Linked DNA regions of Homo sapiens: region 2 is linked to region 1. The links come from fine-mapping of genetic effects on gene expression. Tissue or cell type: whole blood. Region 1 holds a variant in brackets; the other region holds the start of a gene. All regions are shown on one strand. Distances are from middle to middle.

Evidence for each region. PIP is the estimated chance that this variant, and not a neighbour inherited with it, causes the effect.
Region 2: it holds the start of PERP, and the variant in region 1 is fine-mapped to the expression of PERP in whole blood (TOPMed, PIP 0.95).

Annotation. Positions count from the first base shown.
Region 1 is chr6:137,989,699-137,997,805 of GRCh38, reverse strand. It overlaps the pseudogene RPSAP42. Among named protein-coding and RNA genes, the nearest start is that of SIMALR, 48 kb to the right of the region's middle. The variant G/A (reference allele first, on the strand shown) is at 4,842.
Region 2 is chr6:138,103,031-138,111,137 of GRCh38, reverse strand. It overlaps PERP (p53 apoptosis effector related to PMP22), which reads left to right and starts at 3,719. Exons shown (of 3, transcript NM_022121.5): 1 at 3,719-4,011. The coding sequence starts at 3,798. RefSeq lists a silencer at 3,541-3,590.

The DNA of each region.
Region 1 (8,107 bases):
TGTACAATTTGTCTATTCATTTTCCTGTTGATGGACATTGGGTTGTCTATATTTTTTCTCTGTTATAAATAAAGTTGTTATGAACATTCATCTATAGGGCTTTTTGTGGACATACATTGTTTATTTCTCTTAGGTTTATGTATACCTAGAGTTGAATTGTTAGGCCATAGGGTAGGCGTATCTGTAACATAGGAAATAGACAGTTTTTCAAAGTGGTTGTATGATTTCATATCCTCATTAGCAATGTATAAGAGTTCCAGTTGCTCCACAACCTCAGTAACATTTGATGTTGTCGATTTTTAAATTTTAATTGTGTTGATGGGTGTGAAATCGAATCTCATTGTGATTTATTTAGCATTTCACCAGTGACTAATGATGTTAGTACTTTTTCAAGTACTTTTTGGATACATATAAATATTGCAAGTGTTTTGGCCATTTAAAAATTGGGTTGTCTTTTTATTCTTGAGTGGAAGAAGATATATATATATATTCTATAATATGTAGAGCTATATAAACCCAGCCCCCACACACAATTTTATCCCAGTCTGAGGCTGACCCATTCATTTTCTGATGAGTAGAAGTTTTAAATTCTGATGAAAACCAATTTATCTTTTTTCTTTTATGGTATCCTAAGAAATCTTTTCCTAACTCAGTATGCAGCACTCTCTGGGCAAGGCACTTATTCCCTTCCCCTTCCCCTACCCCTCCCATCCCCTCTTCTTCTCTCCCCTCCCTTCCCCTGTATTTTCTTCTGGAAGCTTAAAGTTTTAGCTTTTATGTTTAGGTCTATGGTCTTTGTCAAATTAATTTTTGTGTATGCTGTGAGGTAGGTGTCAAGTTTCTTTATTTTCCATATAGACATACAGTTATTCCAGTACAATTTTATGAAAACAACATTTTTCCCCATTGAATTTTTCATGGCCAATGCTGAAAATCAAATGACTGCGTATGTGTGGGTCTGTTTCTGAACTCTCTATTCTTTTGACTGCTCAATGTGTCTCTTCTTATGCCAGTTCTACACTGTCTTTATTACTGTAGCTTTAGAGTAAGTCTCAAAATCAAGTAGTGTTAGTCCTCCAACTTTGATTTTTTTAAAAAAGATTTTGTTTTCCTGGCTAAATTCTAGGTCATTTGTGTTCTCGTGAAAATTTTAGAATCAGTTTTTGTTTCTGTTTTTTTTTTTTTTTTTTAAGCCTACTGGGATCTTGATTAAAATGGCAGTGAATCTATAGATTAATTTGGGGAGAACTGATAGCAATATTGAAGCTTCTAAATCAGGGATGTGGTATGTCTTATTATTTATTTCAGTCTTCTTTAATTTCCTTCAGTAAGGTTTTATAATTTTTAGTGTAGAGGTCTTACACATCTTTTGTTAAAGTTTTTGATAATATTTTTGATGTCACTATATTATGATATTTTCAATGTTGATTTCCAATCATTGCTACTCTATAAACATACAATTCAATTTTGCATATACATCTTATATTCTGTGACTTTGCTAACATAGCTAAGTTTTTTTTATAATATATTGACTGAGATTTTTCTCTATAAACAATCATGTCTTCTTTTGAGTCATTCTTATTTATTTATTTAGAAACTAATGTTTATTTTCCATCAACCTTATTTCTATTTTGCTTAAGAGTCTGTGGAAGAACAGCTTAGGAACACTCAGTGGTTGTTCCTACCCATTCAGCAGCCGGAGCAGTGAGAGCTGCAGACCAGTCTTCTGTGGCAGGCTGAATGCTTCAGTCTTAGTAGGGACCTGCTGAATAGGCACAGAGGGCACCTGCACGTCTTTAGACTAGTCAGCCTGAGTAGCGGTGCACTCATGAGGTGCAGCAGTCCATTCTCCCTGAAATTCATCCTTGGCCGCAGCTTTTTCAGCAGCAGCCTGCCTCTTCCTTTTCAATCTGCTCAGGATCTCTGTAGAAGTAAATATCGGGCATGACCTTCTCCCATGAGTGCTTATGGGAGATGGTGACACTCATGTGTAGACCTTCCTGGGTCAGTCTCCACCACATCAGACCCACTGAGTGAGAGCCCTTGTTGTTGCATGGGATTGCAATGTCCACACAGTGCAGAGGAGAATCTGTGTCACACAGAGCAATGGTTGGTAGGCAGGTTAACATAAGACGACTCTGTCAGCAGCTGGTGGTCAGCCCTGGGGCCAGTAACCACCAGAAGATGCAGTTCTTGGAAGGCTGCCTAGATCTGGCTAGTGAAGTTTCCAGGAGTGAAGTGGCCAGCAATAGGAGTGACTCCAGTGGCAGCAGCAACTTCAGCACAGCCTGCTGGCCAACATTCCTATATGATATGACATTGACATTGGCAGGGTATTCAATGGCAACAATAGCATGAGATGCCAGCAGATGCTTCTCCCAGGTCCTCTTCAGATTTGTGATGTAGAAGCCATCACTCTTCCTTTTTGTAGATGTACTGTTCCATTTGGAAGTCAAGGTTGGTGCAATAAGTCAGTTACTGCTGCAAGATAGTTGAGGACATACTTCTTCACTTGCATGACATCAAGGGCTCTGGACGTTGTGTGAGTTTCCCTTTAAGTTATGAAGGGAATCTAGAACAGGACCGTATGGATGCCTCTCTACTTAGTGCAGAAAGCCTTGATCCTTTATTTTTAATCTTTATGTCTTTGTTTGTTTCATGGTCTTGCCTCATTGCACTAAGACCTCCAGTACAATATTGAATAAAAATGGTGCGCAGTGGACATTGTGCCTTCCCAATCTCAGCATGACTTAAGAATTTTGTCATTGTGATGATACCTTTAGGGTTTTAGATCTTTGTCAAAATGAGGAAGTTTCCTTATATTTTTAATATGCTGTGTTGTGTTTTATGATGAATAGGTGTTGAATTTGGCAAATGCTTCTTCTGCAACTATTAAGATGTTTATATGCTTCCCCCCTTTTTTGTTAAGTAGTGAATTACACTGATCTATTAATTTTCCATTGTTAAATCAACCTGGCATTCCTGGGGGAAAAATCCTACCTGGTCATGATATATTATTATTTCTGTGTATTTATGAATTTGCTAATATTTTGTTAAGGATTTTTGCATTTATTTTTATGAGGGATATTGGTCTGAAGTTTTCTATTTTTGTAATGTATTTATCTGGTTTTATGAGACATGCTGGTCTCAAAAAGCAAGTTGGGAAATGTTCTCTCCTCTGTATTCTGAAAAGACTGTGTATGATTGGTAATATTTCTTCCTTAAATGTTTGATAAAATTCACCTGAGGTTGAAGTTTTCTTATTCTTTTTTTTGAGACGGAGTCTCACTCTGTCGCTCAGGCTGGAGTGCAGTGGCGCAATCTCGGCTCACTGCAAACTCTGCCTCCCAGGTTCATGATATTCACCTGCCTCAGCCTCCCGAGTAGCTGGGACTACAGGCACCCGCCACCACACCCGGCTAATTTTTTGTATTTTTAGTAGAGACGGGGTTTCACCGTGTTAGCCAGGATGGTCTCTATCTCCTGACCTCATGGTCTGCCTGCCTCAGCCTCCCAAAGTGCTGGGATTACAGGCGTGAGCCACCGTGCCCGGCCAAGGTTGAAGTTTTCTTTGTGGGGAAGATTTTAACTATGAATTAATTTTCCTGAACAGATATAGGGTTCTTCAGACTTTCTATTTCTTATTGTATTAGTTTTGTTAATTTGTATTTGTCAAATAATTTAATCTGTTTATATAAAGTTTCAAATTTACTGGCATACATTTCTTTATGTATTTCTTTATTGTCCTTTAGTGTCTATAGGCTCTATGTTCCCTCTTTCATTCCTCATATTGATGGCTTGTATTTTCCTTTTTTTCTTGAATGGTATTGCTAGGAGATTATTCATTTTATTTAACTTTTCAAAGAAACAATTTCTGACTTGGTTGATGTTTCTCTTTTGATTGTCTGTTTTCTATTTCATTGATTTCCACTCTTTATTGCTTCCTTCTTTCTACTTACTTGGGGTTTAATTTGTTCTTATATTTTTGGCTGCTTGAAGAAGGGTAGATAATTGATTTTAGACCTTCATTCTTTTCTAATTAAGCACTTACAGGCCCAAACTTCTAAGTAAAGAGCTGAATCCCACAAATTTTAAAATGTTGTGATTACCATTTAATTCTAATATTTTCTAATACCGCTTGCGATTTTTTTCTTTGAGCCATGGGATATTTGTAATGGTATTGCTTACTTTCCAAATATTTGGGGATTTGAAAAAAAACTGGTTTTTAAAAAAGTTTTATTTTAGAATAGTTGTAGATTTACAAAAAAGCTGCAGAAATATAACTGATAGTTTCTGTATGCCTGTCACTCAGTTTCCCCAGAGATAACATTTTACATTACCATGCTACATTCGTCAATACTAAAAAAAAATCAACATTGGTATATTGCTATTTCTAGATTCAGATTTTATCAGTTTTTCCACTAAGGTCTTTACTCCAGGATCAGTCTAGGATACCACATTGTACTTAGTAGATATCTTTTTTTTTTTTTAAATTCTAACTTAATTCTTTTTGTTTTCAGAAAATATGTTTCGTATGATGTCACATCTGTTAAATTTGTTGAAACTTATTTTATTGACCAGTATATGGTCTATCTTGGTATAATTCTATGTGCATGTGAAAAGAACCTCTATTCTGGACTTTTTATAGGAAATATTCTAGAAATATCAGTTAGTTAAATGGTCTGATGGCATTATTCAGATCTTCCATATCCTTAATGATGTTACTAACTTTTCCTATCAGTTAGAAAGGAGGGCTCAGATCACCAAGTATAATTGTGGGTTTGTTTTTCCCTGTAGTACTGTCAGTTTTTGCTTCATATATTTTGAAGTTTTGTCATTAG[G/A]TATACATAATGACCTTTTTATTATTATAAAATATCCTTCTTTGTCTCTAATATTGCCATATGTCTCGGTGTTTATTTTGTCTGATATTAATATAGCCACTGTAACGTTCTTATAATTAGTACTTTCTTGGCATATTTTTTCCCCATCCTTTTTCTTTTAATTTGCATCTTTAATCTCACCCAGCAAGCTGTTGGGGTTTGCTTTTTAATGTACACTGACAATGTCTGCCTTTTAATTTCAGTGTTAATTATATTTACATTTAATGTGATTATTGATATGGCTGAGTACACGCTATTTGTTTTCTATTTTTTCCATCAGTTCTATTTTTACTTTTTCTTTTTTCTACTTTCTTTTTGGTCAATAAAATAATTTTAAGCATTCTATTTTATTTCTACAATTGACTTTTTTTAATTAGCAAAAAAGCCAATGGTAGAAATAGAGTACTTAAAAGTATGCTTTTTATAAAGTGGGTGGCATTAAGAATTACAATATGCATTCTTAACTTACTAGTCTACTTTTGATGAATATTAAATCATTTTATACATAATGCAAAAAGATTTAAGTTGCATAATTCCATTTAATATTTGACATTAAAAAAGACATTAATGTTTTTAATCTCTCTCTTGTCCCACATATCCTGTAAGCGGTTTTTGTCATACATTTAATTTCTACATATAATTCCCACAAAACATTGCTATTATTTTTTGCTTTAAACTATCTATTGTCTTTTAAGTAAATTAAGAAACATGAAAAAGTCTTATACTTGCTCACGCTCACCATTTTCAGCAAACTTTAGTCCTTCATGCAGGTTTGAGTTTTCATAGCACTGTTTCCTCTCAACCTGAAATGCCTCCTTTACCATTTTTGTTGTCTATTGACAATAAATTCTCTCACATTTTATCTAAAACTTTTAAATTTGGCTTTAATTTCTGATGAACATTTTTACTATATATTAAATTTTAGATAGACAGTCTTTTTCCTTCCTATATTTTAAAGATGTTTCATTTTCATCTTGCTTGTGTTATTTCTGAGGAAAAGCCAACTTATCGGTTTCTCTGCATGTTCTCTGTTTATGTGTGCTAGTCTTTTCTTCTGCAGTATCTAATCTGCTGTAAACCTCTTATGTAAATTTTAAATTTTATTTATAGTTTTTTTAGCTTTAAAAGTCATATTTGTTTCTTTAAAAATGTTTTCTTTATTACTGTGTTTATGTTTTTCCCTAGATCCATATACATGTTTATAAAAGTTGTTTTAAAATCTCTAACTGCCAGGCCAGGCACAATGGCTCAGGCCTGTAATCCCAGCAGTTTGGGAGGCTGAGGTGGGCAGATCACCTGAGGTCAGGAGTTCAAGACCAGCCTGGCCAACATGGTGAAACCCTGTCTCTACCAAAAATACAAAAATTAGCTGGGTGTGGTGGCATGCACCTGTAATCCGAGCTACTCGGGAGGCTGAGGCAGGAGAATCTTTTGAACCCAGGAGGTGGAGGTTGCGGTGAGCTGAGATTGTACCACCGCACTCCAACCTGGGTGACAAAGCAAGACTCTGTCTCAAAATATATACATAAATATGTTCAATTTACCATTTTTTCTTCTGATTTTGGATCACATTTTTCTTCTTCTTTACATGTCTAGTGATTTGTTTTTCATTGTTTGTTGGAGATTGTGAATGCAACATCATTGAAAGTCAGGATATTTTTTCCATTTAAGATTGTTTACTTGTGTCCGGGAAGGCAATAATTTCTTGGTAGACTGCGTTAATCCTGATGAGATTAGATTATTGGCTCTGCTTGGCCAGTTCTAGAATAGCCCTTACTCTAGAGCATGATCCCTAGTTCTACCATGGCCTTTCTGAGACTCATCTGAATGACTGGGGTGATCATGAGGTTTTCTTATTTTGGCTGTTGAAATTCCGATGCCTCCTAACATTGTGCAGTCTCTAAAATCTGGATTCACCTCTCAATCTTCATGAAGCTGTTTGCTAGGCCTTCAGGTGTCTACTGTGCCTAAACACAGCTTAGTATTTGGCAAAGACTTGAGAAAATCCTATGCATATTTCTGCGGCTCCTTCCCCGTCCAGCTCCCTTCTGTCTGTTACCCTGTCCACAAATTCCACCTGCATCAGCAGCACAGACCCCGATCTCAGTCTCCTCTGCCTGGAAAGAATGATATCTGTTTAGGCCACTTCCCTTGGAAGAAGTTTAGTAGTCCTCCCAAGCAGAAATCAGGGGTGAATATGGGCTTGCTGTATGCATTTTCCTTCTCTCAAGGATGACAGCCTTATGCACACTGAAGGTGATTAATAAATATTTGCTGAACCAGACAGAGCTGTTAAACTAGATTTCCATTTCTTTTTTCTATCTGTGATGCATAATTCCTCCAGTTCTTTCCATCCCTGAACCTCCCTTTCCAACAAAATCTATCCTTAAACTCATATTTGTGTTATAGTTATGACTCCATATTTCTGAAACAAAAATTTAGAACTTTAACTAAAAAATATGAGGATATTGGGATAGAATATTTGAAATCTGTGTTACTCATAGAAATCCTTGACCTTAACTAAAATATAAGCTAGACTTGCCAAGGGGAGACTACCTTAAGAGAACAAAGTTAGCTTCAGAATTTCTGGCATTAGCATCAGGTACCTACATAAAGCTGTACTGCAATAATTTCAGTATCTTTTTTCTTTTTGAGGCAGAGTCTCACTCTGTCACCCAGGCTGGAGTGTGTGGTGGCATGATCTCAGTTCACTGCAACCTCTGCCTCCCAGGCCCAAGAAATTCTCGTAACTCAGCCTCTTCAGTTGCTGGGACTAAGGTGTGTGCCACCACGCTCAGATAATTTTTGTATTTTTTAGTACACACAAGGTTTAATCATGTTAGCCAGGTTGGTCTCGAACTCCTGGCCTCGAGTGATCCACCCACCTCAGCCTCCCAAAGTGCTGGGATTATAGACATGAGCTACCGCACCTGGCCAATTTCAGGATCTTTTAAAACTCTTAGCTGCCAACTCCATTTTCAGAAATATGTAAGATTCTGTGTACAGTCATTCTCCAAGAATGTCTATTTTACTCCAGCTTTTTCACTTATTTCCTACCCAGTTTTGGGCACGAAATGCTTAGGAATGAATTTGTGACTAAGAGATCAATTTGAAATGGGAATTTAGTTGTGGACTTGTGAGGGCTTGAACATTCATTCATTTATTCATGCATGCAAAAAAACCTTCTGAGTGGAACAAAAGGCAGCAGAAACTTCTGCACACTTAAA
Region 2 (8,107 bases), 110 kb before region 1:
AAAGTTAAAATAACATGAGATGTTCAGCCAGCCAAAGAGAAGAAATGCCAGAGATGAGTGATGGAGGAATGAAAGAAAGGTGATCTCCGCTTAATGTTAGAAGACTTATTATCTGTCAATGATTTCAAGGGGAAAAAATCATAGGATATTATGCTGAGATAGAATAAGGATGACAGTTTTAAAAATAAGACCCTCTAAAAGGAAGAGTGCTCAGAGACCCTCTGAGTTATTTTGAGACTAGACAGATTCTCATGTTCATTTGACAAGTGTTTCTTGGAATTTTATCATGTTCCAGGCACTGGGTACTGTGCACACAGTGGTGAGAGGTAACATGTGACACTTTTGTCAACATCTAATTTACATTGCAGTGGGAGTGGATACAAATTATTCAGAATAAATATATAATTAAAATTGTGAGAAAAGTTTTGAAGGAAAGACATACAGGGCTTTGAGGATGTGTAACGGGAACTTAATCTAGTTGGGGGCTTTCTGTGGAAGTGAAGTTTTGCTGAGGTCAAGGGGTCAGTAGGTGTTCATCAGGTCAGAGGAGCAGGACTGGGTGGGTGAGGTCGAAGAATCCTGGGTTGACGTTTACTGTGTATTCACAGTCACTGTTAATTTACATAAGATACTCTTGGTTTTCTGGATCATGGCTATTGGTTCTAACTCAGGCTATGCTATTATTAAGGACTCTCAATGGTCCACACCTATCACGTGATCTCATCAATGTTCAATGTGAAAAATAAGGCCCTGCATCTTTGCCAAATGGTTGACAGTGGGAGCATTTGCCACATCCAGAGGAAACTCAATCACTCCATATCTACTGGAGGGTACTTCATCCATGGACTCAACTGGACAGCCACAAGAGAACCATGTCAAAGGCCCAATGGTCCTACAGAGATGCCCAGAACGGTGGCAGGGAGATCATGTCACTGCAGCTTGGGAGATAACTAGGAGTAGTTTGGGTGTTTACAAGGACCAAAGAAGGGAAGAAAGGAGACATTTGGATACATCCATAAACTCTTACGAGTGCTTACTGTGATGAATAGCACTATCTCTGCTGTCAGGCTGCCTAGGTTGAAGCCTGGCTTTGCCACTCCGTGACTGCATGGTCTTGGGCAAGTTACTTAACTTCGTTGTGCCTCAGTCCCTTGTGTAAATGAAGGAGATGCTGGTACATGCCTCATAAGGTAGATGTGAAACACCCACTGGGACATAGTAAACTCCAGCAGATGTTTGTTAGCTGCTATTATTATTATTACTATTACTTTCTACCAATTTTTATTTTTAAAATTATTTATTTATATATTTTTGTTGGTAACAGTCATTGGTTTTATAACCATAACCCCAAATTAGAAAAATAAAACCTTTTTGTTTATGGTGATAGTTTCATGGGTATGTACTTATCTTCAAATTCGTCAAGTTGTATATATTAAATATCACTTTTTTGTATGTCAGTCAAGCCTCAATTAAAAAAAAACTTTCTGTAGGTGCAATTTACATTTTTGCCAAGTGCTCAGTGCTCAGGCGCAATCCCTACATTGTCCAGCAGGGGGAACTATCCAACTGCCTACTGTTCTCTATGAGCCATCATTTTATGAATATGGCTAGGATGAATGATTGCATTGTCTCAAATAACTTAGTCACTTACAGTTGGTATTCACCTATAGAATTTGCCCTTTAGAAACATGGACATTCCCCTCTTTCAATGTTCAAAAGTGGAAAACCTATATGAAAAATCATCATCATCATCATCAACCCTTACTATATGCAGGAACTATCTTGAGCACTTTAGATGAATTTGCTCTTTTAACAATCATTAAAACACTGAGGTTAGCACTGTCTGTCTTACAGATGAGGAAATGGAGGCACAAAAAACTGAACTAACCTGCCCAGTGTCACACAGCGAATATGAGAAAGCGTGTAAACCTGAACCATCCGGTTCCAGAGTCTGTACCACATGTTGGGTATATTATTGTTGGAAACCCACCAGGGTCAATGTGGTCTCTTCCAGAAATTGTGAAGAGCTAATCTCTTTGTGTTCACCTCGGCATTAATGAGCTCTTTTCCTCAAGCCCATCGGAAATGGTTTCATTGAATAACGAAAATAAATTATATATATCAAGTCCAAAATTATCCAGAGATATTAAGATGCCTGCAAAACTCTCATTTTGTCTGAAGCCACTTTGCTTCTGGTCAGTATTTGACTTATAAGAATTTTTTTTTCTCACAAATATATTATACATAGCTAATTAAACAAATATCTTCATTACTTTTGAAAACCCTGAGAACATAAATATCACCATTTTCTTCACACAGCTTCCACGATACAAAATTAACTTTTGGCAGAACACCCTCTTGTGTTCTTTGAAAGTGAAAATATTTTCCTGTAATAAAAATATATGACGTGGTTTATGTAAAACTTGAATTATGTAAAATGAAGGCTAGGGAAATTATTTCATGTATTTTCAGATACTTTCTCCATGCTTTTATTCGTCCTCAAGAATTGCCAGAAAATGGCATAAGTCAAAAGAGTATTCTGTTTCTATTGAGAATATCAAATTGGAATACAATTTAAAATATTTTTAAGTAGTTCCCACTTTTATATTAAATTAACAGAAAAAATAGGGGATTCAGAAGAAATCTTTGGAGGTACAGGGTTAAGACATGACCCCCATACGATGTTTCAGTGATTTTCCCAAGGCCACCGAGGTGCCTGACACTGAGAACTCCTTTGTCCTCAGCGGCACACCTGGCTGCCACCCCACCCTTCCTGTCACATCTTAGGAGTCAGAACTGCGACGGGAGCTAGCCCAGGACACCGAAGGGGGGATCCTAAATGCAGGTTGCATGCTGACGTATGATTTTTATTTGGAAAAACCTCAAAATAGTAAATGAAGAGTAGAGAGAGTGCAGTTTAAATAGGTAGAGATTCGTGATAGGAAGTGGACTGCAGCAGAGGCGACATGAAATTATCTGGGGAAGCCAGATGAAGCCTTTCCGAAAGGAAGCGAGCATTTGTTAAATTACATGTTCATTCATCAAATTCACTGAGCTCCCCTTGAGATCCAAACACGGTGCCGGACACTAAGGATACACAGATAAATTCAGCATCGCCTCCGCTTTCCAAAATCTGGCAACCCAGCAGGAAAGAACAGCATGCAAAGAGATAAGAGTACCCGGGGAGCCACGGTCCAAGGTGCAAAGGCGGAGCCTAGGAGGAAGGGATCACCTGTGTCAGCAGGGGTCAGGGACGGGCTTCTGGGTTTGGGTGCACGCGTCCAAAGGAGTGCAGCCTTTATCCACAGGTGCAATTAGAACACCCATCTCACACTGCTGAAAACTCAGATATGGCACTGCTGACCACCGCCCCACGATGCGACATCAGGGGTCAGATATTAGGCTGGCGCTGTGCAGATAAACAAGTGTATATGTTGGTGCGCCAGGAAGACAAAACACGCGCCTGGAGAGGCCAGGAGAGCGGGACTGGAGGGTTGTGGGACGCGCGGGACCCTCGGGCCGCCTTCCGCCGCCGCCCGGTGTCACCAGAACCCAGCCTGTTTACCAGCGGCCCCGCCCGCCCCGGCCCGGCAGGGCAGGTCGGGGCGGGCGCGCTCTGAGTCACCGGAATCTAGGTGGGGCCGCCCGGAGCGGCGTCCTCGGGAGCCGCCTCCCCGCGGCCTCTTCGCTTTTGTGGCGGCGCCCGCGCTCGCAGGCCACTCTCTGCTGTCGCCCGTCCCGCGCGCTCCTCCGACCCGCTCCGCTCCGCTCCGCTCGGCCCCGCGCCGCCCGTCAACATGATCCGCTGCGGCCTGGCCTGCGAGCGCTGCCGCTGGATCCTGCCCCTGCTCCTACTCAGCGCCATCGCCTTCGACATCATCGCGCTGGCCGGCCGCGGCTGGTTGCAGTCTAGCGACCACGGCCAGACGTCCTCGCTGTGGTGGAAATGCTCCCAAGAGGGCGGCGGCAGCGGGTCCTACGAGGAGGGCTGTCAGAGCCTCATGGAGTACGGTGAGTGCCCGCCGCCGCCGCCGTCGCCGCCTCCAGGAAGCCCTCGGGGCCGCGGCCTGCAAAAGCCGCCGCGCGTGATGGGCCCTCACAGGGTCGGGGGAGCCAGTGCTTTTCAGAATGCCTGTTTAGGACGAGCTCGGGCTCATGCATCCGACCTGAACCAAATGCAGCAGCAGTAGCTTTGGGTGGCCAACACCAAGCTCAGAAACAGAAAAAAAAAAAAGGCCGTAGTTCAAACTGTATAGTTTTTTTCCTGGGTTTTGTCGGTTACGTACGAAAGATTATTTCAAGCATTGCAAGTTTAGATGAGTAAATATAATGAACAAAGTTTCTTGGAGACCTGAAATTTCTTCCCATTTCTCTTCCTTCTCGTTTCTTCTTATGATTAAAATATAAATATTGAAATAACGTGCCTTCCCTAATATCAGTGGATTCGTTCAACTTGATATAGCTGAAAAAACTTTCTCATTTAAAAAAGCCCTTTCAGGCAGTTTTAGCAGTTAACGTTTTCAATAGATATTTCAGTCTACTTTACCGGTCAGGCTAGTTCTTGTTAGCTCTTGTTCTAGGGCGTGTCCTTTGGTTTAAGCATGGCATTGTTGTTTAGAAAACTTAATTATTTTAATCCGATTTGAAATCTAAAAAGCAAACACATTCCCTACACTCGCGACGTGAAGCAGAGTTGACAAATTTAATGTACCTAGCAGGTGAAGTACTGTATGCCATTTTCCCAGCATGGAGGAAGCTCCCTGCTTGCCTTGCTGAAAGTCAGGACTGGAGCATAGTTCTTGTCTGAGAAGGCATTTTCTTTCACAGTGGGAAGCCCCCTCTCCTTTCCTGGGGGTGGATGGGAATCACAGCTGGGGTCTACTGTGATTAGCAATGTGTGTGGGGGTGGAGATGGGGTCTGTGAGAGCCTAATAAAACCTTAAAGCCAAATGGGCTTTACCTACCGGGTTTAATAGTTTTAAACACAGACAGCAAGCTACCCTGCCTGTTTTCATTTCTTACTATTACCATTGACTTGATTTTTTTCTTTGAAGTGGCCCAGGGCTTCCAACCCAATCCTGTTTATTTGTGTTTCCGGGGGACTATATCAGCAACTTGGTGCCCTTTCTTTTGTGTAATCCTTTGGACGTCACTTCCCCACAAAAGGAAGCATGGTCCCCATTAGCCAGGTAATAAAATGTAAACACTGCAGAAAATTCCAGCTTTCTTTGCAGTTTGTGTGTTTTCTTCTCTGAAAACCCATACACTGTGCCAGCTCAGGTTTGTATCATCTCCAGTGTTTTAGGTTTTTAAAGCGAATTAATTGTTTTTTGAAATAATGTACCTCTATCTTCTAGTTAAAATGCATCTGAACTCAGTCTCTTCTAGGGGACCTAACAGATCTGCGTGTGTGTTTTTAAACATACTTTGATAATTATACCCTACTCCAAAGACTAATGCAGACCCAAAGTATATGCAGTAATCCTCCACATATAAAGTAAGACTAGCGTGCCTTTGACTGGTGGCGGGGATATTGGCAGAACTATGATCAGTGCTACTGACGGGACATGATTTGACCTGCAGGGCTCTGGCTGTGACCACAGCCCTCTTGTGAAACATGCACAATGCCATTTTTATTTTTCTTGACTTGCAGGATGAGCTCACCTTTTTAGGGTGTGGTGTTCCACCTTAGACTGATACAGTGCTTTGTATATGGAAGGCAATAAGCAGGTTTTTTTTCTTAGTTTGGTTGAATTTTTAATTAGAAGTCTAAATGTTAATTTTTTTCATTGTAAAGAAAACACTAACCAGTGTATAGTTTATAATTCAGTTTGACATAGAAATTGGTCCTTGGAAAAGCTCGATTTTCTAAGTGGATCTCGAAAAATCTGTTTATGATGCAGCATGACTGATTTTCGTAAATGGTAATAGCTTTAACAACTCAGTTTAGTTATTCCTGCTACCTTTGCAAAGTTAATTAAGTGCCAGTAATGCATTACACACGGCTCTTGCTCAAGATCTGGAATCAAATCATGAATCTGGGATCCGCTGTCATGAAGTGGCTGTGGGAAGAAGACAGCAGATATGGAGCTACCTCTGGCCGTTGTAGCCAAAGATGAGTTTAAGTGCTTATTATACGTCTGTCTCATCGCCTGCATGCACATTGTCTAGTTTTGCCTCACAATTGTAGAAGCTGTGTATAACGACACTGTAAGGCGATTATCTAGGCATCTATGAACTCTGGATTTTCAGATAGCCTTAGTAAGGCCTTACTGAAAACCATATATTTACATGAGCTTGTACTTTATCTAAAATGAAGTAAGCAGTTTACACACACTCCCACGTATGCACAAACACACAGTATCTTGTGCAACAAGGAATAAGGTTGATGGCTCTGATTAAAATGAGATCTCCGTATAGAGAATTGAGTGTGTACATCCACTTTGAAAAACTTCTTGATATGTACTAGGCAATAAATATTTTGATTTACCGTTGTAACTATTAAGAAAATCTTGTTATTACAAAGTGTTTCAACACCTCTCTTATTAGTTGATAATCATAACAATATGTTCATTTTGGTAGTAAAGACACAGGTTATTCCTGGCAAGTATTGACAATAATCCGAATGAATATGGATGTTTTTATAAAGATAAATAATTCCTTAGAACTATATAAAAAGCAGAATATTATATTTTTCACTGTTACTGACAGTTTAAGAATTTCAGATGACCAAATCACCTCATTTTTCCTTGTGAAGGAGCCAAATTATTCGCTGAATATTTTCTTTGACCAGCTAAATTAACACCCAGCTAAAAACATTCTTATTTGAATTTTTTAAAAATCATGGTTTATATTTGTCAAAACAGGAAAAGAAAATCTATAGATTAATGATTGAAATCATTCAAATTTCACCTATAAATAAAATGTGAAATTTAAATGCATGTTCACTCATACTAGTTTTGCACCGCTGGCACCATCTTTTCTAGTTTTTAAGAAAGAATACATCAGGAGGATATTTTCAGCCGCAGCTGTGTAGATTTCAAATCACAGGCAAGCTCCAGCTTGTTCAAGGGGAGAATAATGGTGATAAGTTTGTGCACCAGAGTGAAACAGGGAGTCAGTGAGGATTGACGAGCATTTGCCTTGAATCCAAACTGGGAAGTACAAAGCCTCCGGTTTTTTGTTGTTTTTTAACCAAAGACACCCTTTGCATACTGTAAATGCATCAATATTTTGTTTGTTTTTAACATGAAATCGCTGTTGGCCAAGTCAAAGAATCAGTATTACATGAAATAGTTTTAGGTCAGTTAGCCCTGTGGCTCTCCAATGTACAAGAAATAAGAAAAGTAAGTACAAGTTAATAGTTCACATTAGTCTAAATTCCTCTTAAAGCAGGGATCCCCAACCCTGAGGCCACAGACTGTTACTCCCACTGATTCTACATTATGGTGAGTTGTGTAATTATTTCATTATATATTATACAGTGTAATAATACTAGAAATAAAGTGTGTAATAAAGGTAATGCACTTGAATCATCCCAAAACCAAGGAAAATTTTCTTCCTTGAAACTGGTCCCTGGTGCCAAAAATGTTGGGGACCACTGATTGAAAGGACTTCATTTTGAGATTATGCCCTTGTGGTTTTTTCAGTGGGGAGTGGGGTAGGGAAAGGTATTAAACTGTTCCTGGCCGGGTGTGGTGGCTCACGCCTATAATCCTAGCACTTAGGGAGGCCGAGGCGGGCAGATCACTTGAGGTCAGGAGTTTGAAACCAGCCTGGCCAACATGGTAAAACCCCGTCTCTACTAAAAATACAAAAAAATTAGCCCGGCATGGTGACAGGCACCTGTAATCTCAGCTACTCAGGAGGCTGAGGTAGGAGAATTGCTTGAACCCGGGAGGCGGAGGTTGCAGTGAGCCAAGATTGGGCCACTACACTCCAGCCTGGGTGACAGAGCGAGACTCAGTCTCCAAAAAAATACAAAACTGTACCTAATTTATGAAATTAGGCATTAGCAGACAGATTACTCTTTTTTTTTTGAGACGGAGTCTCGGTCTGTCGCGCAGGCTGGAGTGCAGTGGCACAATCTCTGCTCACTGCAAGCTCC